Regions from separate parts of the Homo sapiens genome. Here regions 1, 2, 3, 4, 5 and 6 are each reported to be linked to region 7. The links are microRNA targets in miRTarBase. Many come from high-throughput screens and were not tested one by one. Region 7 holds a microRNA gene; each other region holds the end of a gene's coding sequence.
What was found. Region 7 holds the annotated microRNA hsa-miR-30c-5p (UGUAAACAUCCUACACUCUCAGC, at 2,143-2,165, shown strand). A microRNA usually pairs through its seed, bases 2 to 8, with sites in the 3' UTR of a target mRNA and lowers its output. Matches are read on the target gene's strand: a 7mer-m8 pairs with bases 2 to 8, a 7mer-A1 pairs with bases 2 to 7 and ends in A, and an 8mer does both.

Region 1 (3,098 bases), not on the chromosome of region 7:
GAAGGACCCAGTGAGCGAGTTCCAGCCTGCTGCCCCATCTTCTAGCTGCTTAGGGCTGAGGTGCTGGTGTCTGCATTTTCTGTGGCTCTGAGTCCCTATCTCAGTCTCTGCCTCTATGTTTCTCTCTCTCACTTCTCAAATCACAGCAGCAGTCACTCTAGGGGCTGGCACTCAATCTCTCCAAGGCCACTGGTGCCTGGCCTGGAGACCACCTTAGGGCTGGACCTGCCGGGCCAAGTGGGATCTGGATGTAGCCCCTGCCCTGGATTCCCTCTCCAAGTGAAATCTTGAGGGGGAAGAGGAAAGCTTGGGACGGGCCTGAGAATAAGCAAGTGGGGAAAGGAGGGTGGGCGTGTAGAGGGGTGGGACAGAGGGCCAAGACCACGGCGAGGGGTTTGGGGACAGACGACCCGTGGGAAGGGTGTTGTGGCACTGAGCCACCAGCAACCAGTTCTGAGGAGGCCTGGGTCATTTCACAGTCTTGCCAGTGCCCCAGCTGACCCACTCACCCATCTTAGCCCACCCCACTGACAAGGTAGACCCCAGGATTCCAGATATGTTGTTACTGCTGGTTCTTGTCTAAATAGGTTCCCCTGGTTTTGAGCATTTGCCAAATTCCCTATCTCTCTAGAAGGGGCCCAGACCTGTCACTCCACACATGGGAGAGCCCTGCGGCACTGGCTTGCACTTGGTAAAGGATGTGACTGGAAACTTGACTGGGTCACCCCAGCTAGTCAGCCAACCAGCCAATTAGTCAGGCAATCAGCTAGTCAGTTGCTCAATGGGCTCCCCAAGCAACAGCTGGTCAGTTAGGCAGTTACCAAGATAGTTGGTTGGTTAGTCATTCACCCAGCCAGCTGGTCAGCCAGTCAGTCAGAGTCAGTCAGTTAGCTGGTTAACTGGTCAGCTAGAGGCTGGTCAGTTAGAGACAGCTGGCCAGGGTCAGTCCGTGAGTCAGCCCTGAAGCCAGTCAGTCAACATTTATTGCATGTTTGGCAAATGTGGAGAGGCCCTCTCTTAGTAGAACCCAGGATGGAAAAAGAAACACAAAAAAAAGTGGAAGACAGTCCCTGCCCTCAAGGGGCTTACAATCTTAGGGATGTGGAATGTACAATACATATAAAATAAGATTTTAAAAAATATGAAAACAACATCCAAATAAGTGCAAATTGATATACTATTAGCCAAATACAAAAGAGCAGGAGGAGCATGACTGAAAAGAGCAGTCAGAAGGTTGTGGAGAAGCCAGGAAGGCTTCCTGATGGGCTGGCTGTGGGCTTGGGTGGGAGGGGGAAGAGGTGGGCCAGCTGGGGTTGGCGGGGGGCAGGGGTGAGGAACAATAGGGTCACAGCTACATCAACAACATGGGCAAAGACAACAGCAGGCACTCATCAATGTGCAGGAGGCACAACTGGGAGGGCTACGGAGATGACAGAATTAGGATTTCACACAACTTCAGTAGGTTCAGGTGATGGGCAGAAACCAACAAGGTGGCTTTAACAAAGGTGAACATAAACTGCACTTTGGTTAAAAAAGTTAAGTTGTCCAAGTACAGGGTAGAGATGGTCTGGCTTGACAGAAGTTTATGGGAAATGGAACTAGGGGTTTTAATAGACCACAGGCTCAACATATGACAACAGTATGATGCAGTTGTTAAGAAAAAAACTAATGCAATCTTAATCTGCACAAATAGAAGAATACTGTCCATATCAAGGAAGGTAACAGTCCCACTGTACTCTCTCTGAGCTGGTCAGACAACATCTGGAGTACTGTGTCCGGGGCTGGGCGTCACATTTTCAGAGGGACATTGACAAACGAGTGTGTCCAGGATGGTGAGGGGTCTGAAAACCATATCATATAAGGAACGTTTGAGGGACTTGGCCATACTTAGCTTAGAGAATTCTCAAAGGGGACATGGATACCTGACTTGAAATATCTGAGGGTTTTCATGAGAACAGGAGGGAGGAGCAGTATGGAGGGGGCAGGGAAGCCAGTTTTGCCTCGCATGAGGAAGACGTTTCTCCCAGTCTGACTGGAAGATGGCATGGGCTGTGGCTAGGCAGGGAGCTGGGCTGGATCTGGGAGTGTGTGACAGCCAGCTGGCTGGCTCCCTGTTGGGGACATGGAGAGGGGCAGTCCCTTTGGGGTGGGAACCAGGGCCAAATGACCCCTGAGAGCCCTTCCAAGACTCAGGTTCTATGTCAACATGATCCTAAAAGCAAGGAAGCAGAACTGACCTCAGCTGGGGAGGAGGGTTAACTGGTGCGGGGGTGGCGATCTGGCAAGCAGCTGCTGTCGAAGGGGCTTGGCAGCCAAGCCAAGAATATAGGGCTTGCAGTGGCTGCCACACAGAGCTACTGAAGATTCTCCAGGAGGGTAAAGACCTTATAAAGGCCACATTTGAAAAAGGGGGGTTTAGTTGCTCTGAGGTCACAGGTGGCAGCAACACTAGAAGCCCAATGCAGAGGTAATAGTCCCTGGCCTCAGCGGGGGTGGATGGAATGGAGGGGCAGGGGGATAGCTGAGGACCTGGAAAGGAGAGGGTGGCTGGACCTGGCTGGCGATGTATGGAAAGGGAACTGGAGAGAGGCATGGGAGTCAGTGTGGGGGCCTCAGGGGAATTGGTGTCACCAACAGGTGAACGTGACTGGAAAAGGGTATAGGTAAGTTTTAGGAGTGGAGATCAAAGTCAGAATCTTACCTTAGAATTCCCTCTACACTGGCAGTTCCACCTGTCTGTCATCCTGAGTCAGGGGGCTGCAGGCAGAGCACAGGGCTGGTATTAGACATCAGCAGGAGCAGGGGAATAAGGGGACTCCGTAAGTTTACCCCTAAGCCCCAGACATGCTCTAGGCCCTCTCAGATTGAAAAGACCCAGAACTGTCTAACTCTACGGAGAAATCAGGAAAAAGCCCAGATATCTGGGAAAGGACAGAGGCCCTTCTTCTCTCCCCCATCCTGTTCTGCAGCTCCATTTCCTCAGAGCAAGCAGGAGAGCCCCACCACCACGAAGAGGGGAAACAGATCCCAAGCCAGGCCCCCAGTGCCTCCCAGAGCCCCACCTCAAGCTCTCACCTGCCCTCTGGTTGCTCCAAGGG
Region 2 (3,098 bases), not on the chromosome of region 7:
CCCGTCTCTACCAAAAATACAAAAATTCGCCAGGCACACGCCTGTAATCCCAGCTACTTGGGAGGCTGGGGCAGGAGGATCCCTTGAACCCGGGAGGTAGAGGCTGCAGTGAGCCGAGATTGCGCCATTGCACTCCAGCCTGGGCAACAAGAGTGAAACTCCATCTCAAAAAACAAAACAAGAATTAGCTACATATGATGGTACAGTCCTGTAGTCCCAGTTACACGGAGGCAGGGGATCACTTGAACCCAGGAGGTGGAGGTTGCCATGAGCCGAGATCAGGCCACTGCACTCCAGCCTGGGTGACAGACTGAGACCCTGTCTCAAAAAAATAGAAAATAAAAAAAGATAATAGGTACATGGGTGATTGTTTTCTCACAAGGTCACACTATGCATTAGTACAAAGATTCAGTTGTCTTGATCAAGGTGCCTTGGAATCCAGAAAAAGAAAACTCATTATACTCATTATATACTTTAAAATGAATTTTTTAGCTTAAAATAGCAGCAGAAAGTATATTTAAAAAAAAATCTCGGATGGGGGAACTTTACCATATGTCAAGCTGAGCTGTTGTACTTTGCTGTGTGCATTTGCTATCAGTCTTATTCAAAAAATAAGCTGAGATCCCCATTTTTAGTCCTTACAAAAGTGATTCATGTGTTAAAATGGGAATGTCAGAAATGTGGAAGAAGATACATGTTTAAGATCTCTTGCTGGGGGGAGGAAAGGCGTTTCTAAATAGGCTACAAAGGCCGGGCACGGTGACTCATGCTTGTAATGCCAGCACTTTGGGAGGATCACTTGAGGTCAGGAGTTCAAGACCATCCTGGCCAACATGGCAAAACCCTGTCTCTACTAAATTAACAAAAATTGGCCAGATGTACTGGCAGGCGCCTGTAATCCCAGCTACTCAATCCCTGCTACTTGGGAGGCTGAGGCAGGAGAATTGCTTAAACCCGGGAGGCGGAGGTTGTGGTGAGCAGAGATCACACCACTGCACTCCAGCCTGGGCGACAGAGTGAGAATCCGTCTCAAAAATAAACAGGCTACAAAAAACTAAGAGTGACAAATATAAATTGACTTCCTAAAAATGGGAGGTCTCTGTATGGCACAGACATGATAAGCCAGGATGACTGAGCAGGGGCAGTCATCCCAAATGCCCAGGGAGCTCCCAGCAAAGACAGTCATGTGGCCATCACAGAGAAACGGTACATCCAGTGGCCAAAGGACACACAGAAGTGTTATGTCACTATTAAAAAATGCTGGCCAGGCATGGTGGCTCACACCTATAATCCCAGCACTTTGGGAGGCCGAGGCAGGCGGATAACCTGAGGTCGGGAGTTTGAGACCACCCTGACCAACATGGAGAAACCCCGTCTCTACTAAAAATACAAAATTAGTTGGGTGTGATGGCGCATGCCTGTAATCCCAGCTACTTGGGAGGCTGAGGCAGGAAAATCACTTGAACCTGGGAGGCGGAGGTTGCAGTGAGCAGAGATCGTGCCACCGCACTCCAGCCTGGGCAACAAGAACGAAACTGTCTCAAAAAAAAAAAAAAAAAAGCTAATGGGAGGCTGGGTGCAGTGGATCACACCTGTAACCCAGCACTTTGGGAGGTCCAGGTGGGCGGATCATGTCAGGATTTCAAGACCAGCCTGGCCAACATGGTGAAACATCGTCTCTACTAAAAATACAAAAATTAGCTGGGCGTGGTGATGGGCGCCTACAATCCCAGCTACTCGGGAGGCTGAGGCAGAATTTCTTGAACCCAGGAGGCAGAGGCTGCATTGAACGGAGACTGCCCCACTGCACTACAGCCTGAGCAACAGAGCAAGACTGTCTCAAAAAAAAAAAAAAATTCTTTGGAAAGAAAAAAAACCCAACTAAAGAGGTTTTGCTTGGGGATGGGGTGGCCGGGGCTCCAAGGGCAGCTCAGTGGTGACTTCTCTCTCCTTATTCCACCAGTTGCAGCACAGAGCTCTGCCTCATGGTCACAGGATGGCTGCTCCACTGCCAGGCATCACAACCCACTTCAGACCAAAGAAGGCCTACCAGCCACGGGGAAGGCCAGCCAAGACTTCCTTTAAAAGGCTTTCCTGGAAGCTACACTAGCAAGTTCCATTTGCATGTCATGGGGATCAACTCACGTGACTCAGTTCTGAACAAACACAGACAGACACACGGAGTGTCTAGCTTCAAACGTGCTAGCTTCAAACTCCACGTGGGTCGCCTTCAGCATGGAAGAGCTTGTTCCTGTCTGACCTCAGCCAGAAGTCCCGTGCAAATCACGAATACCCACCCAGGGTGGTTTATAGGAGAGATTTATTTGAAGAAATATTACAACATATAAAAACTACATAAAGTCTTAATTTCCACTCATACAGTGGTAGATTTGATATAATGCATAATAAAAAACTTTTAAAATCCAGAATGCACAAAGTACTGCACAATTTGATCACTAAATCATTAGTTGATAAGCGAACCTCACACAACAGCTTCATGTCAGCCAAGGCCACAAACACCATGTACCACACATGTGAACGGACAGATTGACATGTTAAAAACACAACATCAGTGCATGTTGGGGATTCCTGGTGCCAGAAACAGGGGTGACGGGAGGGCAGAACTAGTCCTTAGCAGCTTCCTCCTCCTTTATTTTAGCTGAAGGGAAATAAAAGGAAAAGTCACTCTGGGGAACACGCCCGGTGTCACGCCACTTGACAGGCGAGTAACAGACATGGACCATCAGGAAACATTAACGTACTGATGTTAACAGCTGACCCAATAAGTGGCAGAGTGCTAAGGGAACGTTCACGGAGACTGAACACTCCTCAAACGGTCCCCAGAGGGTTCTAGACCCAGAGGCTCAAGTGAGCAGCTGAGGCAGGTGCCTGCTGAGCCAAATTCACCGAGCAGGAGTGAGGGAAACGGCCCCAGGGCCAGCCCAGCAGCCAACCTGACCAAAGGCCTGCTGTGTGCAGCACGCCTGCTCTAAGCACTTGACACGTGCAACTCACTCAATCCTCACAGCAGCCCCTTGAGAAAGATGGGGCCACGAACGTGGGTAGGTGACCCGCCTGAGTCCCAGAGCCCAAAACGG
Region 3 (3,098 bases), not on the chromosome of region 7:
CCTGAGGCCTGACCCAAGGCCGCATCCCCAGGGTCAGGGAAGCTGTGGGGCAGGCTGGCTTGTTACTGTGGCCCGGGGTTGGCCTTCAGGCAAACACAGGCTAAAGCTGTTATCCTGTGGCCCATCAGGACTAACCATGCATCACTGATCTTGAAATCACAGTCTCTCCTACATCCCAATGTCCTCAGCTTCTGGCTGTACTTCCATGTGCTTTAAAGAGATAGTAGTGAATTTATGATGTGCAGGCGTCCCTCCCAGCACTCGGCATGACCGCGCTTAGCTTCCATCCCCCACCCCCCCGTGCAGGCATCCCTCCCAGCACTCAGCGTGACTGTGCTCAGCCTCAGGACTCTAGCTTTGCAGGCGTCCCTCCCAGCTCAGTGAGACCAGCCCTGTGCTTTCCTGTTGCAGGTGCTAGTCCTGACAGTCTCTGTGACCCGCTCTGCACTTTGCTGTTGCAGGTGTACCTCCTTATACTGAGTGTGACCACGCTCAGCCTCTTGCTCGCCCCGGTGCTGTGGAGAGCTGCAATCACGAGGTGTGTGCCCAGACCGGAGAGACGGTCCAGCCTCTGATGGCTCGGAGATGATGGACCGTGGAAGGGAAGCGTCTGTGGGGAGTGAGCGCTTAGATGGCCAGCAGCTGCTCCTTCTGGGAAGCTCGCACCTTGGCAACAGAACAGCCCTCTAGCAGAGCGTCAGTGCAGTCGTGTTATCCCGGCTTTTACAGAATATTCTTGTCCTATTTTAGAATTTTCCGGAGTAGTTTATTTGCAGTCTGTTGATTATGTGCAGTAGACCCGGGACACTGCGTTTTACCGATCACCTTGAATGTGGTGCCTGGATGTGCCTTTTTTTTTTTTCCCTGAAATTATTATTAATTTTCTATTGTGAGTTCATCAGTTCATAGTTTTTTTAGTAAAGAAGCAAAATTAAAAGGCTTTTAAAAATGTACAACTTCAGAATTATAATCTGTTAGTCAAATATTTGTTATTAAACATTTCTGTAATATGAAGTTGTAATCCTGGCCGTGAGCTTGGAAGCTTACTTTTGATTCTTAAAGCCTATGTTTTCTAAAATGAGACAAATACGGATGTCTATTTGCCTTTTATTGTAACTTTTAAATGAAATAATTTCATGTCAATTTCTATTAGATATATCACTTAAAATATTTGGTTTTAAATCACAAGAATATGTATTCTTTAATAAAGATAATTTATGATCATGGTATAATTAATTGAAATTTATTAAAATCTGTTTTTATTAATTTTTTTGTATTGAGCTTATCTTTATACAAAATTCCAGCCAATTTTTTTTTTTACTAAGATGATTTCTATATTAACATGCTATTCTCCAAGACACCAAATTAATGCAGTGTTAATTGATAAGTTCTAACTTTTGATATTTAAATATCTATTTTGGTGATTATGTGCCCCAGTTTAGAAAACCACACAGGTGAGGATCTGAGCCTCACAAGGACTTCCCTAAGAGGCATTGTGCTCATCTGTTTTGTGCTGCTGTAATAGAATGCCTGAAACTGGGTCATTTACAAAGAACACAAACTTATCTCTCGAAATTCTGGAGGCTGGGGACAACAAGATGGAGGTGCTGGCAGGTCAGGCCTGCTCTCTGCTTCCGGGATGGTGCCTGGAACGCTGGGTCCTCCAGAGGGAGGAAGGCTGGGTGCTAACGTGGTAGAAGAGCAGGAGAGCCAACCACTCCCCAGTCCCCTTTGTGTGGCAGCATTGATTCACGAGGGCAGATTCCTCCTGACCTAAACACCTCCCTGCAGGCCTCACCTCCCAACGCTTGCAGTGCACATCGAGGGGACAGAAGCATTTGAACCGTAGCAGGTACCGTATTAGGCTTTTTCAACTGCATGAATTTTTTTAATTGACAGATAAAAGTCAACATATTTATTGTGTACAACATAGCAAGTACTTTAAGCCAGGGTTTTCGTATACCTGTCAGCTTTAAGAGCCTAACAATTTGACCAAAATACTTGAGATAGAGAAGGTAAAAATGGCAGGTGTAATTATGTATTGCACACATAAATTATCGATTGCAGTAGTATAAATTAAAACATTTTGAAGTAAGTTGTATCTAGTCTGAAGCAGATTAATGGAGAAATGATACCAACATGTTTATGTTTAGAAAATATCTTTGGTTTTTCATTTCTAAATGAGCCCAAATGGTCTAGTGCCGTTTTCTCCTCCACTCGTGATGATATATGAGATGTTGCCAGGTGCATGTGAAGCGTTCTGGGTGTGGCCTGTCTGCCTGAGGCTGACTGGCCTATCACTGTGTCCCTGTGCTGCTTTGCCACGCCTGTGACACTCCATCTTCCCTGTGCACGCGCCTTCTCCCCATCCAGGCATTCAGGATACAGTGGAGTCTCTGCAACAGGGTGACTTTTTTTTTGTCTCCAACACCTGTGACCATCTTTTTAATTTTGTTAAACTGAAGGAAACCGACTTGATGAGAGTAACATCAAACTCCCCCCAAAACACGAAATTAGCCTCTCTCTGCAAGATGAAATAAGAAGTGCCCTGAATGACGAGAGAAAGCATGCTAGGGTCTCTGCCTAACTGATCACTCAGGTAAGATCCTAACTGCCCAGGAACGGTGTCCTCAAAGCCCCAGCTGGGCCCACCTGCCCCACTCCAGCCACAGGACCTGGCTCTGTGAACCCGTCACTCCCGTTTTCACCCCCACCTCTCTGCTAGTGACTTCCTCATCTGTGACCTGCCCGTTTGTCCCATGCTGACCCAGCAGAACCCTTTCTTGACCTCATGACTCCTCTTTCATCCAGACCTTCCAGAAAGCTTCACCCTCCCCATCCCATCCCCATCATGTCTGCCCCTGTCATCCAGATGGGGGTCTCCGAGCCACCGAGCCCCTGGTAGCCACATTGCCCCCACCCTGCTCTCAGCATTTCCCCAGTGTGTAGCATGTCACTAGAAAGAAGTGGGAGGACGGACTCATGGTGAGTCTTGTGGGGACATGTTTGCTGGAGGCTAACCAGCCTGATCATGACATCTTCATCTTAAATTTGAAAATTGTCATCAGGTTACGGTGAAATCCTACCGGATCAACATC
Region 4 (3,098 bases), not on the chromosome of region 7:
CCATTCTGGCCATAGGATGCTTATAGAATTTTATGAGTCACCAGATCCAGAAAGAAGAAAAAGATTTCCTGGGAAAAGTGTTAATTCCAAATTAAGTATCAAGAAGACTTTACCATCAATGTTGATCTTAAGTGGTTTGACTGCAGGCATGCTTATGACCGATGCTGGAAGGAAGCTGTATGTGAACACCTGGATATATGGAACCCTACTTGGCTGCCTGTGGGTTACTATTAAAGCATAGACAAGTAGCTGTCTCCAGACAGTGGGATGTGCTACATTGTCTATTTTTGGCGGCTGCACATGACATCAAATTGTTTCCTGAATTTATTAAGGAGTGTAAATAAAGCCTTGTTGATTGAAGATTGGATAATAGAATTTGTGACGAAAGCTGATATGCAATGGTCTTGGGCAAACATACCTGGTTGTACAACTTTAGCATCGGGGCTGCTGGAAGGGTAAAAGCTAAATGGAGTTTCTCCTGCTCTGTCCATTTCCTATGAACTAATGACAACTTGAGAAGGCTGGGAGGATTGTGTATTTTGCAAGTCAGATGGCTGCATTTTTGAGCATTAATTTGCAGCGTATTTCACTTTTTCTGTTATTTTCAATTTATTACAACTTGACAGCTCCAAGCTCTTATTACTAAAGTATTTAGTATCTTGCAGCTAGTTAATATTTCATCTTTTGCTTATTTCTACAAGTCAGTGAAATAAATTGTATTTAGGAAGTGTCAGGATGTTCAAAGGAAAGGGTAAAAAGTGTTCATGGGGAAAAAGCTCTGTTTAGCACATGATTTTATTGTATTGCGTTATTAGCTGATTTTACTCATTTTATATTTGCAAAATAAATTTCTAATATTTATTGAAATTGCTTAATTTGCACACCCTGTACACACAGAAAATGGTATAAAATATGAGAACGAAGTTTAAAATTGTGACTCTGATTCATTATAGCAGAACTTTAAATTTCCCAGCTTTTTGAAGATTTAAGCTACACTATTAGTACTTCCCTTTGTCTGTGCCATAAGTGCTTGAAAACGTTAAGGTTTTCTGTTTTGTTTTGTTTTTTTAATATCAAAAGAGTCGGTGTGAACCTTGGTTGGACCCCAAGTTCACAAGATTTTTAAGGTGATGAGAGCCTGCAGACATTCTGCCTAGATTTACTAGCGTGTGCCTTTTGCCTGCTTCTCTTTGATTTCACAGAATATTCATTCAGAAGTCGCGTTTCTGTAGTGTGGTGGATTCCCACTGGGCTCTGGTCCTTCCCTTGGATCCCGTCAGTGGTGCTGCTCAGCGGCTTGCACGCAGACTTGCTAGGAAGAAATGCAGAGCCAGCCTGTGCTGCCCACTTTCAGAGTTGAACTCTTTAAGCCCTTGTGAGTGGGCTTCACCAGCTACTGCAGAGGCATTTTGCATTTGTCTGTGTCAAGAAGTTCACCTTCTCAAGCCAGTGAAATACAGACTTAATTTGTCATGACTGAACGAATTTGTTTATTTCCCATTAGGTTTAGTGGAGCTACACATTAATATGTATCGCCTTAGAGCAAGAGCTGTGTTCCAGGAACCAGATCACGATTTTTAGCCATGGAACAATATATCCCATGGGAGAAGACCTTTCAGTGTGAACTGTTCTATTTTTGTGTTATAATTTAAACTTCGATTTCCTCATAGTCCTTTAAGTTGACATTTCTGCTTACTGCTACTGGATTTTTGCTGCAGAAATATATCAGTGGCCCACATTAAACATACCAGTTGGATCATGATAAGCAAAATGAAAGAAATAATGATTAAGGGAAAATTAAGTGACTGTGTTACACTGCTTCTCCCATGCCAGAGAATAAACTCTTTCAAGCATCATCTTTGAAGAGTCGTGTGGTGTGAATTGGTTTGTGTACATTAGAATGTATGCACACATCCATGGACACTCAGGATATAGTTGGCCTAATAATCGGGGCATGGGTAAAACTTATGAAAATTTCCTCATGCTGAATTGTAATTTTCTCTTACCTGTAAAGTAAAATTTAGATCAATTCCATGTCTTTGTTAAGTACAGGGATTTAATATATTTTGAATATAATGGGTATGTTCTAAATTTGAACTTTGAGAGGCAATACTGTTGGAATTATGTGGATTCTAACTCATTTTAACAAGGTAGCCTGACCTGCATAAGATCACTTGAATGTTAGGTTTCATAGAACTATACTAATCTTCTCACAAAAGGTCTATAAAATACAGTCGTTGAAAAAAATTTTGTATCAAAATGTTTGGAAAATTAGAAGCTTCTCCTTAACCTGTATTGATACTGACTTGAATTATTTTCTAAAATTAAGAGCCGTATACCTACCTGTAAGTCTTTTCACATATCATTTAAACTTTTGTTTGTATTATTACTGATTTACAGCTTAGTTATTAATTTTTCTTTATAAGAATGCCGTCGATGTGCATGCTTTTATGTTTTTCAGAAAAGGGTGTGTTTGGATGAAAGTAAAAAAAAAAATAAAATCTTTCACTGTCTCTAATGGCTGTGCTGTTTAACATTTTTTGACCCTAAAATTCACCAACAGTCTCCCAGTACATAAAATAGGCTTAATGACTGGCCCTGCATTCTTCACAATATTTTTCCCTAAGCTTTGAGCAAAGTTTTAAAAAAATACACTAAAATAATCAAAACTGTTAAGCAGTATATTAGTTTGGTTATATAAATTCATCTGCAATTTATAAGATGCATGGCCGATGTTAATTTGCTTGGCAATTCTGTAATCATTAAGTGATCTCAGTGAAACATGTCAAATGCCTTAAATTAACTAAGTTGGTGAATAAAAGTGCCGATCTGGCTAACTCTTACACCATACATACTGATAGTTTTTCATATGTTTCATTTCCATGTGATTTTTAAAATTTAGAGTGGCAACAATTTTGCTTAATATGGGTTACATAAGCTTTATTTTTTCCTTTGTTCATAATTATATTCTTTGAATAGGTCTGTGTCAATCAAGTGATCTAACTAGACTGATCATAGATAGAAGGAAATAAGGCCAAGTTCAAGACCAGCCTGGGCAACATATCGAGAACCTGTCTACAAAAAAATTAAAAAAAATT
Region 5 (3,098 bases), not on the chromosome of region 7:
AGTGCTTTTGCTGAATCTCTATGAAAAACAAAATCCATTATTTTTAGGTAGAAACAGTTCCAGGACTCCATGGGAATCTGTTGCCATTTTGTCACAAAAGTTGAGAGATTTTGCAGATTAACTGTAATCTTAAATCTGGAAGTCAACTCCATAAACCTTAAAGCAAAGAATTAGAACAATTCATACCAGATGATTTTAGCATACGCTGGTAGGAAAATGAAATTTAAAGTGATTTTCTTACATTTTTATCAGTGTAGGTTTTGGTCATTAAAAATTTTCACTCCAGTTCTTTTTATGTTTATTTTGACTTCTGATTTATCTAGGAACTAGAACCTCTGGTTGGTGAACAGTTGCTCCAGTTATGGGAACGTCTTCCCTTGGGAGAAAAAAACACAACTGATTGACACTCAGGTTATACCATCTTGACTTTGAGTATTGGCAGTATTTGTGATCATTAGGAACCTTTCAGATTATTTATCTTTTTTTTTCCCCTTTCTTCTAGAACTCTTAGCTGTGGAAGAACATCATGCCTATTTATAACCACTGAATGCACTGACTTTCAAAAACTGAGGTGGGGTGTGTGTTACGAATGGGCTTTTTAACACTTTTAGAGTGTTGCTTTAGAACTACCATCTTCATATACAGGAGAAAGGAAGCATTTAAATTTTTATAGTGATTATAGAGAATGATTATATGATGTTTGTAATGAATAAAATAGTAGTTTCATTATTTGGCACAATAGCAGTTTATTTTAAACAAACAATTTGAAGTTAAACATTTCATTTTTAAAAACACTGAATTACAGTTCTTATTGATGACTTTTTAATGCAGAGTAAGTTGTTTAAGAAAGGCCTGAATATATCAGAACATCTGAGCACCATTTTAGAAGAGTCAACTCTTAAGATTATCATTAGAAAACAAATACGTCAACACCTATGAAAAGAAGCGGGGAAAACAACAACAAGGACAACAACAAAAAACCAGTGAAATTCTACAAGTGTCCCTTTTAAAAATAGTGTGTGCTAACTAAGGGCTATTCATTCTGCCATTTTTAACTTGAGACACATTTAAGAATAAAGTTGGATGTTCTTTTTCTGTGATTATGAAATGCAATAAAATCTGAATAAAGGGCAAAGTTTCTTCCTGATCAGATTAGATTAAGTGCTTAGTTTTATTCCTAATTCTGCCCCTTTTAACCTGATGTGTACCTTACTCTTTCCTCCCTCTCTTCCTCCCTTCCTCCTCTCCCCGCTCCTTTCCTGCATTTCTCCCTCCCTCCTTCCCTCGTCACATCTCTTATATGAGCACAGTAATTATGACCTTTTTGTTTTGGCTACAACTTGATTGAAACAAGTTCAAAATTTAAACAAGTTCATACAAGTTTTTAAAAATTCTCAACTGGTAGCTTGCTTGCTGTGCGTCTTCCAAACTAAAGCCTGCAAGCGCCACAATTCTAAGTGCCGCCTTCCATTTTTTTTCAGTATGTTTTCACTGGCTTATGTTTTCAGATATGATTTTCCTTTTTCGCATATATGGTTTAATAAATGGGGGATAATTTTTTTTTTGTAAATCCGTGCTTGTGCCAAGTCTCATATTTCTTTGCCATCTCAGAATTATCTTTTTACCACCACTGTTTATAAAATTTCCTTAGAGACTTTTTGAAGGGAAAATAGAGCAACAGGGAAAAATGAAAGAAATGTCTTGGTTACTGAGCTCTAAATAGACAGGTTTGATGGCACTTCTCATGATACATTTTAGTTATTCTTATAAAAGCAAACAGGCAAACATGAGTGTAAATTAAAGACAAAAAGAAAACTCTGGTTTTATATTTGAGAACACGTGAAAAATCATGGGTCAACATAAAATCTTGAGAACCTTCTACTTTCTCTGGGAAAGCATTATATAGTGGTGCATTAGTTTAGAAAGTCAGCTATGATTTTGCCTATAGTTCTAGTTATTAGCTTTGGGGTTTTCTTGTACTTTAAGACATACCTGTAAATTGAACCTATTTGAATTATATTCCACTGTATGTGTATTATGGCTCTTTTCCTATTAGAGCAACTTGTGTTTCCCTGATAATGTGTACATTTTTTAGGCATGTACTTAATAGTTCACAATGTTCTAAATTTGGAAGGACTTAAAAAAAAAACTTGTTTAAATTTCCATCTGTTTTGTAATATCTAGCTCTATATGTAAATGATGGGTTTGTTGGTATTTAAAATGAATACAACTTGAATGTAATTAAAGTGCTGTTTTTTGGAAGCGATAAACTTTAAATATACTTATTAAAATGAAATTCTATTAAGTTTTTCAGATCTTATTTCTTATACTTTATAATAAGACTAAGTTAACAATGATCAACAATATCCCCTGAGATAATAATGAATTTCAAACACCTTGAAGAATACTAAATTGATATAGAAGGTGATGGTTTGTATTGAAACTCCCTTCCCTGTAAATTGCCTTATTTCAATAGGAGATGGCAAAAATCTCTTTTGTTTAGTATAAAATATTTTAAATATTAATAAAATATACAAAAATAGGAAACTTAAACTATATTAAAACATTTCTAAATATTATGAATAGTACCTTGTACTTAAATGTTAGTATTTTTCTAACTTTATTCACAAAGTTCTTGTCTAAACATCCAGGAGAAAGTTAGTTATAGTATAATATCTTTTTTTTTAATAGTACAATATCTTGGTAGCTAACACTACTTTTTCTGAACAATTTAGTTCTTTTCTGTCAGCTAATGTTTCCTTTCTTTCAGCTAATGAAGCCATCCATTCAGAAAAGGTGGAGCAGCTGCTGTTTTACCCAGACATTTCTTTGTAGAAAATGGTAGTAGCATCTTAGATACTTGGCTTCCATCAGTCCTTTCATCTCCCAGAGAATTTTAATATTTGCTTTCACTAATTCTCTGGAAGCAGTTTGTTGTCTTTTTTTTTTTTTTTTTTAAAGGCAAGGTCTCGCTCTGTCACCCAGGCTGTAGTGCTGTGGTGAGATCACAGCTCACTACAGCCTCAGTCTCCTGGGCTCAACCAATCCTCCCACCTCAGCCTCCCAAGTAGCTGGGACATGCCACCATACCATGCCTG
Region 6 (3,000 bases), not on the chromosome of region 7:
AATCTCAGAAGGTTTAGTATACTCATTGTTAGCCATGTTTAGAATTGAATATTTATATTTTAAAATTATTTATTTTAATTCTTTGTTTTAAATAGTCCTGATAAACCTGTGAGTGTGAAAATAAGTTTTGAAGATGAACCAAGAAAGAAATACGTGGATGCTGAAACTTCATTATAGAATTGAACCAAGAGGCATTATACATATAGATATATACATATGTAATGTGTGCGTATCATGTCACTATATATAAGAATATTGTATGTCATGCTGTTTATGTGTGACTACCGGGTTTTTAAAAGTAGTGTCTGGAGTTTGTAATGAGCACCGTGGAGACTATGTATTTAATGAAATGCTCTCTTTGAAGTGAGGTACATGGTTCTTAACTATTCAAATATTTATTCTGTTAGAAAAAAAAATTTTCTGTTTTGCAATAGAAGGATGTGGAGAAATGCTTTCAGTCTACTTTTCTTAAATCTCTGTTCATCAGTGGCAATTCGTAAAAACCTTAAGTGATACTTTGTTTATATGTTTATAATTTTTAGGTGTTTCCTGAAATTTTCACATATTATTTCACTTTTGTTAGTGCTTTATGGGAAGAATAGGGAGTCTATACCAGTGCTGTGGGAAAAATGGTAACATTTCAGGGCTTCTCTATTTGTGTTTCATTTCTGTAGATGTCCATCGTGTTTCACTAACTGGCGTTTTCTTAGCCATAGAGATGACTGTAGAACAATAGAAACTTTAATAATGATAGTTTTTAACTTTTATGTTTAAATTTTTTTTAAATCTTAAAACCTTCATATCTAGGTATCCATTGTGACAGACAAGTAAAATTGCAGGTGATTTGATAATTAAGCACCCATACCATTTATAACTTCTGAATTTAAAAAGTTATACAATGCCAGTTTGCAATAGTTGATTTTGATGCCTTTGTAGAATATTTTTTCTGAATCCTTATGCTCTTTTAAAGCCAATGATTCCCACTCTGTTCTCTGCCTTGTCTCTCTTTGTCTTAAAATGCTTTAGTTTCCATCAGGTTCAAGTTCTTGACTATTATTCTCTTATAAGTAGTAGGCGTAAATAATCAGGAGTTAGAATTCTCTCAGAAGGGTCTATGATCAGTATTACTTTATTAAGAATTACCTTTCATTTTCTCTTTATGTTATTCTTTCACTTTTGTAGATTACATTTAATAGCTTGTTACCTGTGATTTTATTTTAAAATATTTATTTTGATATGATGCTTAAATATTATATAAACATTTGGAAAAGTAACAAATAGAGTAAATTGTTAATGTAAATAGTTGGTGCTTACTTTCATTTATGTTTATTATCTTAAAGCAATTGATAGATTTTACATCTTTGATATAAAGCACTGCCATATTTATATTTTAAAAGGAAATTAGACATTTTATATGTAGCTCAGATTAATGACATTTTTATTTTGTGTATTAGTTTTTGCTTTTCTGAGCTTTTTAAAGTCTAACAAATCTTTTTAGTCATCTTTTATATACTTTTAGTTCCACATGAAATAAATGTTGTTAAGCCTGTAGGACTGGATGAATGGGGTTGTGAAACTGATTTGACAAGAGAATAATTTACAAAAATCAAATGAGTATTGAGAAGCCACAGAAATATCAAAAATGGTGACATCACTATTAGGATGAAAATTTTATGAAATTCCAATGCTCCCTTTAACCATATAATTAAATTACAAAGGTATACATAATTAATCTAATAAAGGATCATGAGGAATGCCAAAAGCTGAAATTTTAGCAAGTCTGGTGTTTTAAATTCATTATAAACTATTTATTAACTAATGTAATGTCCTCCTCTAAGACCATATTGTAAGAGTCTTGTTAAAATGATGGATTCAACTTCTGCCTCGGATGAGAGGTTGGAAATGTAGCTGCTTTTCTTTAGAAAATATGTAGCTGTCATCATTTGGTACTGCCTAAAAAGAGTTAGACTCTATTGGCAATTGATAGAGTATTACCCACGGTGCTTATTATTGTTTATGAGCTTCCATTGTAATGATTCCTTTTTATTTGTAGCAGCATAATTATTTCCAAAGACCCCAGTATTTGCTGCTATTTTTAAAACTCCCCTGATGTACCTGAACAAGAGGATTTCCTCACATCATTTCCTTGTGTCTGGACATCAGGGGTAACAACTGTACTTACTTTACAGGAAGAAATTTTAAAACTGAAAACTACCTGGGATCATAGTGTTTCTGTGATTTTATTTAATTGTGTATAGTAATTATCCAGTGCCAGAAAAACCGTCACTTGCAAAATACTTTGCACTCAAAATGTTTTTACAATGCTTCTAAATGTTACTGGTTTCTGCTTTCTTTTGACTACTTGACTGACAAAATGATCTGACTACTCCATTTAAGAGCAAAGGTAACTCATGTTTAGGTAATTAACTGCTTGTTTTAAGTGATTATATTTCTTCCACTGTTTTTGAAAAATAATCAAAGATAGCATTCATTGAGAGACAGTGACAGATATAATTTACTACATATATTGATTTTTAAATAAAGTTGCCTTAAATAAGTGTATGTAAGCAGTAGTAGTTGCTATGTACTGATTTACCTCAAGGTGCAAAATAATTAAACCTGTACATATTCCATTTACAAAATAAATTCAGCCCTGCACTTTCTTTAGATGCCTTGATTTCCAGAATGGAGCTTAGTGCTACTGAATACCCTGGCCACAGAGCCACCTCAGGATATTCTTTTCTCCACCCTAGTTTATTTATTTATAGATATCTGTTTACAAAGTCTGTAGTAAATCCTGATGCTGACCATCTGAAATGTACTTTTTTTCTGAATGCTGTTTCAATCTAAAATAGCAGCTTTTGAGAAAACAATGATGTAAATTCCTTATGATAAAAGGATGATTCTATATATTCTTTAATGATATTAAATATGCCGAAGCCAAGCACACAGTCTTTCTAAAGTGTGTGTATGTTTGTGTGAATGTGAATGATACTGATC
Region 7 (3,098 bases):
CTTCCCTAGTAGAGAGATGGATAGGTAAACAAATAATTGTAATAAAGTATCAGTTCTGTGATCTAGGCATATGCAATTATGTGACCTAGGCACAGTATAATGGTGGTAAAAGGAAAAATGAACAATTCCTCCTCAGGTTGGGGGAGGGGTGTGGGTGTTAGGGATGACGCTGACCAGAGAGGATTCACAAGAGAGAATACTTGATTTGGGATTTGAAGACTGTATGGGCACTTGCCAGGTAGAAGAGTAAGCAGAAGTGCAGAAACAGAATAAAGAACAGGTTTGTGTGATTTAGTTCTTCAAGTGTTTTCACCCTTTCAGTTGTGACAGAATTCAGTATTCAATGAGCATGGGGTCATAACTTTGCAGCCCAGCCCATTCAAGTTATCATTCTTAGGGCTCTTTCCTTCTCCACTTCTCTTCCTATTCTTTCCCTCCTGCATGAAAGGCCTTATGAAGCCCAAGCCAGGCTTGTGAATTACCCATGACTTCTCCATCTCCACAGTGCCTCTCCCCTCAGCTACTCACTCACTGAATTCTGCTGTTCTTCTTGTCTTTATAATTTCTCATATTCATTTTCTCTGTGTTCTTACTGCCTCTTCCCTAATTAAGGCTCCCATGCTCTCCCTTACACTACTGCAGTGATTCTTTTCCTGTTTTCCTTACCTGCCACCTTAAAGCTAGAGTAAATTCTCTAAAGTACTGACATGGTCATCCCACTTGCCTGCTTACTATCTTTCACTCGTACCCATCGTTTGGAGATAATGCCCAAACCCTTTAACCTGGCACATAAGGACTCCCATCTTTCCCTTGTGTCTCTCCCCTTACCCTTCACCCACATGCATCTTTGACTCCACCTCTGCTGAATTCTTAAAGGCCTCAGCATACATTACCTTTGTCTTTCTTTCTCTATTGGATGACTGTTCTTTCTGGTACACTTTAAGCTACACTATCTTCTTCACTGCCCACCCCTTCCAAATTCCCATTAGCACCATCTTCACCTAGCTAATTTTATTCAGGCTTCAAGACTCAGCCTGGCTATTAGCCAACTCAGAAGTGTCTTTTGACCCATCATAACACTTATAGTAATGGTGTATGTGTCTGTCTTGCAAATTAAGCTGTGTCCTTCTCGAAGGTAGGGATGATACCCTTCATTTCTCATCACCTAGAATTTAAAACATTGCTGATATATGGCAGGCAGTCACAATTGTTTGTTGAATGAATGAATGAATGAATGAAATGAGTAAGATCCTGTAACAGTTTGGAATTATATGCCACCTGGGTTTACAGTGTAGTCTCTTATCAGGTAGGTTTGTTCTGAGATGTATAGTAATGATGACTTTCTTCTTCGCCCAAGTATTTTGTGTACCTTAGACCAGTTTAGCAAATGAAGTCCAAGAACTATTTGAATAAGTCATTCTTAGAAAATAACTTTAGGAAGCAACTGACTCCATTCATGTGTATGCCTCTAATTGTAGGTTCACTTCTGTCCGAATATGAATTTTTAAAATAATTTTAGCATTATATTAGCAATTTGCAATATACCATTTTTATGCATGTAAAGTTGTATTCTAACATATTTACTTTTTGCTCATTTGATTAAATTTATTACTGTGTATCCCATCATTAAGGTAACTAATTTTCAGTAATTAAACTGTTGGTCTTCTGTTTAGCCATTATTCTCAGTTCTGTGCAGGAGTGAGCTGAAACAAAGTTGTATAGCCCAGAGAGTGAGAAGCTGCATTTCATGTCTCCCAACAGTCAGAAAGGGATTATGTACTGTTTAAGGAAGGAGTTTGGCGAATATTTTGAAACCCTTTTGGGAAAGCATAGAATATTGAAAATCCAAAATTAACCAAATCCGTGAGTGTGCAAGCTCAAAGCTAGAGACCTTAGGAATATCTTAGGATGTGCAAAACAGGAAGAAAACAAGAACTGAGCAGGCAGCACTAAGTAAGTGTCATATAGCCTCCCCACCCACCCTTCCAACCCTACTCCTAAAAGAGCCATAATTTAGTCCCAAGTATACTTTTCTGATCTTTTCCTGTGACATATTATGGTATCTTCAAATGGTACTGGGTTTCCTGAGGCTTGTGCTGCTGACTGCCAACCCCATCCTAGAGAGCACTGAGCGACAGATACTGTAAACATCCTACACTCTCAGCTGTGGAAAGTAAGAAAGCTGGGAGAAGGCTGTTTACTCTTTCTGCCTTGGAAGTCAACTAAAGAGAAATGGATTTTGAATATTTCTATGTCTTAGAATTGATCCTATCCCGTGTTTGTTTCTGAGGTCAACTGTAAAAGGAAAAAAGGTGAATTGACTAAGTCATCCAAAGAAATGTAAGATAATCTATAATATCAGTTATATTTGAACTGTTTCACTTAGTTTAAAAAGAAAAAAAAGATTACCAAATACCCAAGTGACAAAAGTTCTGGTTAACTTGTATGAGGCTACATTTTGTGGGTTGCTGCAGTCTGATCTGTAAAAGCAACACATTACCTATACGTTAAGCTAAACATTTCTCCTTTAACCTGAGAGCATTCCACACTGAAGTCTGCTTTTCTTGAAGCAAAAATTCTAGTGTCCTTGGACTTGCTATTTTATCAGGGATCAAAGGCACCTTGGAGCCCCATGCTTTAGGAATTGTAATGGCAAACAATAAGGTCTGCTCTTTAAAGCTAGAATATAGTTACACATTTCAGGAAAAAATAGAATTGTTGTTGGAGGACGGGAGAGGAAGGAAAATGTAGAGGTAAGGGATGGGATGCAAGAAGTTAATTTTAAGAAAAATCTACAGAACGAACTCATAAGTTCAGCCTTAACCAGAAAAACTCTTTCATGTAAATCGTTTAAATCAAAGGTCTATTAAACATCTAATCTAGAATGTAACTTACCTGAAATTTGAGTCCATTGCTGATTTATTTAAAATTATTATGAAATAAGCCTTCTTGTTAAAGAGAATATTTAAATAAGGCATATTTTTATATAACAAGCCCTTAAGAAGTTAAATAATTAACTTAATGCTTCTATTAAAAATTAAACAAATCTGAACAAAATTACTCTAGTCTTGGCATATCAGCATATATCAGTCATTTAA

Region 1: miRTarBase lists CSF1 as a target of hsa-miR-30c-5p. The part of its 3' UTR that is shown has no 7-base or 8-base seed match.
Region 2: the mRNA of DNMT1 is a reported target of hsa-miR-30c-5p. The part of its 3' UTR that is shown has no 7-base or 8-base seed match.
Region 3: miRTarBase lists SLC9D1 as a target of hsa-miR-30c-5p. The part of its 3' UTR that is shown has no 7-base or 8-base seed match.
Region 4: miRTarBase lists AGPAT5 as a target of hsa-miR-30c-5p. The part of its 3' UTR that is shown has no 7-base or 8-base seed match.
Region 5: miRTarBase lists YTHDC2 as a target of hsa-miR-30c-5p. The part of its 3' UTR that is shown has no 7-base or 8-base seed match.
Region 6: miRTarBase lists SLC4A7 as a target of hsa-miR-30c-5p. Seed matches in the 3' UTR shown: 8mer at 2,774-2,781.

The regions. Positions count from the first base shown.
Region 1 is chr1:109,924,806-109,927,903 of GRCh38, reverse strand. It overlaps CSF1 (colony stimulating factor 1), which reads right to left. Exons shown (of 9, transcript NM_000757.6): 7 at 3,076-3,098; 8 at 2,702-2,757. The coding sequence ends at 2,715. Among named protein-coding and RNA genes, the nearest start is that of CSF1, 16 kb to the right of the region's middle.
Region 2 is chr19:10,131,043-10,134,140 of GRCh38, forward strand. DNMT1 (DNA methyltransferase 1) reads right to left here. Exons shown (of 41, transcript NM_001130823.3): 41 at 2,304-2,659. The coding sequence ends at 2,625. Among named protein-coding and RNA genes, the nearest start is that of EIF3G, 13 kb to the left of the region's middle. RefSeq lists a silencer at 1,852-2,148.
Region 3 is chr13:113,548,964-113,552,061 of GRCh38, forward strand. SLC9D1 (solute carrier family 9 member D1) reads left to right here. Exons shown (of 13, transcript NM_017905.6): 13 at 462-1,266. The coding sequence ends at 575. Among named protein-coding and RNA genes, the nearest start is that of TFDP1, 34 kb to the right of the region's middle. RefSeq lists an enhancer at 2,771-3,098.
Region 4 is chr8:6,757,148-6,760,245 of GRCh38, forward strand. It overlaps AGPAT5 (1-acylglycerol-3-phosphate O-acyltransferase 5), which reads left to right. Exons shown (of 8, transcript NM_018361.5): 8 at 16-3,098. The coding sequence ends at 241. Among named protein-coding and RNA genes, the nearest start is that of MIR4659B, 13 kb to the left of the region's middle.
Region 5 is chr5:113,592,980-113,596,077 of GRCh38, forward strand. It overlaps YTHDC2 (YTH N6-methyladenosine RNA binding protein C2), which reads left to right. Exons shown (of 30, transcript NM_022828.5): 29 at 324-411; 30 at 503-2,305. The coding sequence ends at 404. Among named protein-coding and RNA genes, the nearest start is that of YTHDC2, 81 kb to the left of the region's middle.
Region 6 is chr3:27,373,941-27,376,940 of GRCh38, reverse strand. It overlaps SLC4A7 (solute carrier family 4 member 7), which reads left to right. Exons shown (of 26, transcript NM_001321103.2): 26 at 96-3,000. The coding sequence ends at 177. Among named protein-coding and RNA genes, the nearest start is that of NEK10, 6.1 kb to the right of the region's middle.
Region 7 is chr6:71,376,070-71,379,167 of GRCh38, reverse strand. MIR30C2 (microRNA 30c-2) reads left to right here and starts at 2,137; the gene lies at 2,137-2,208.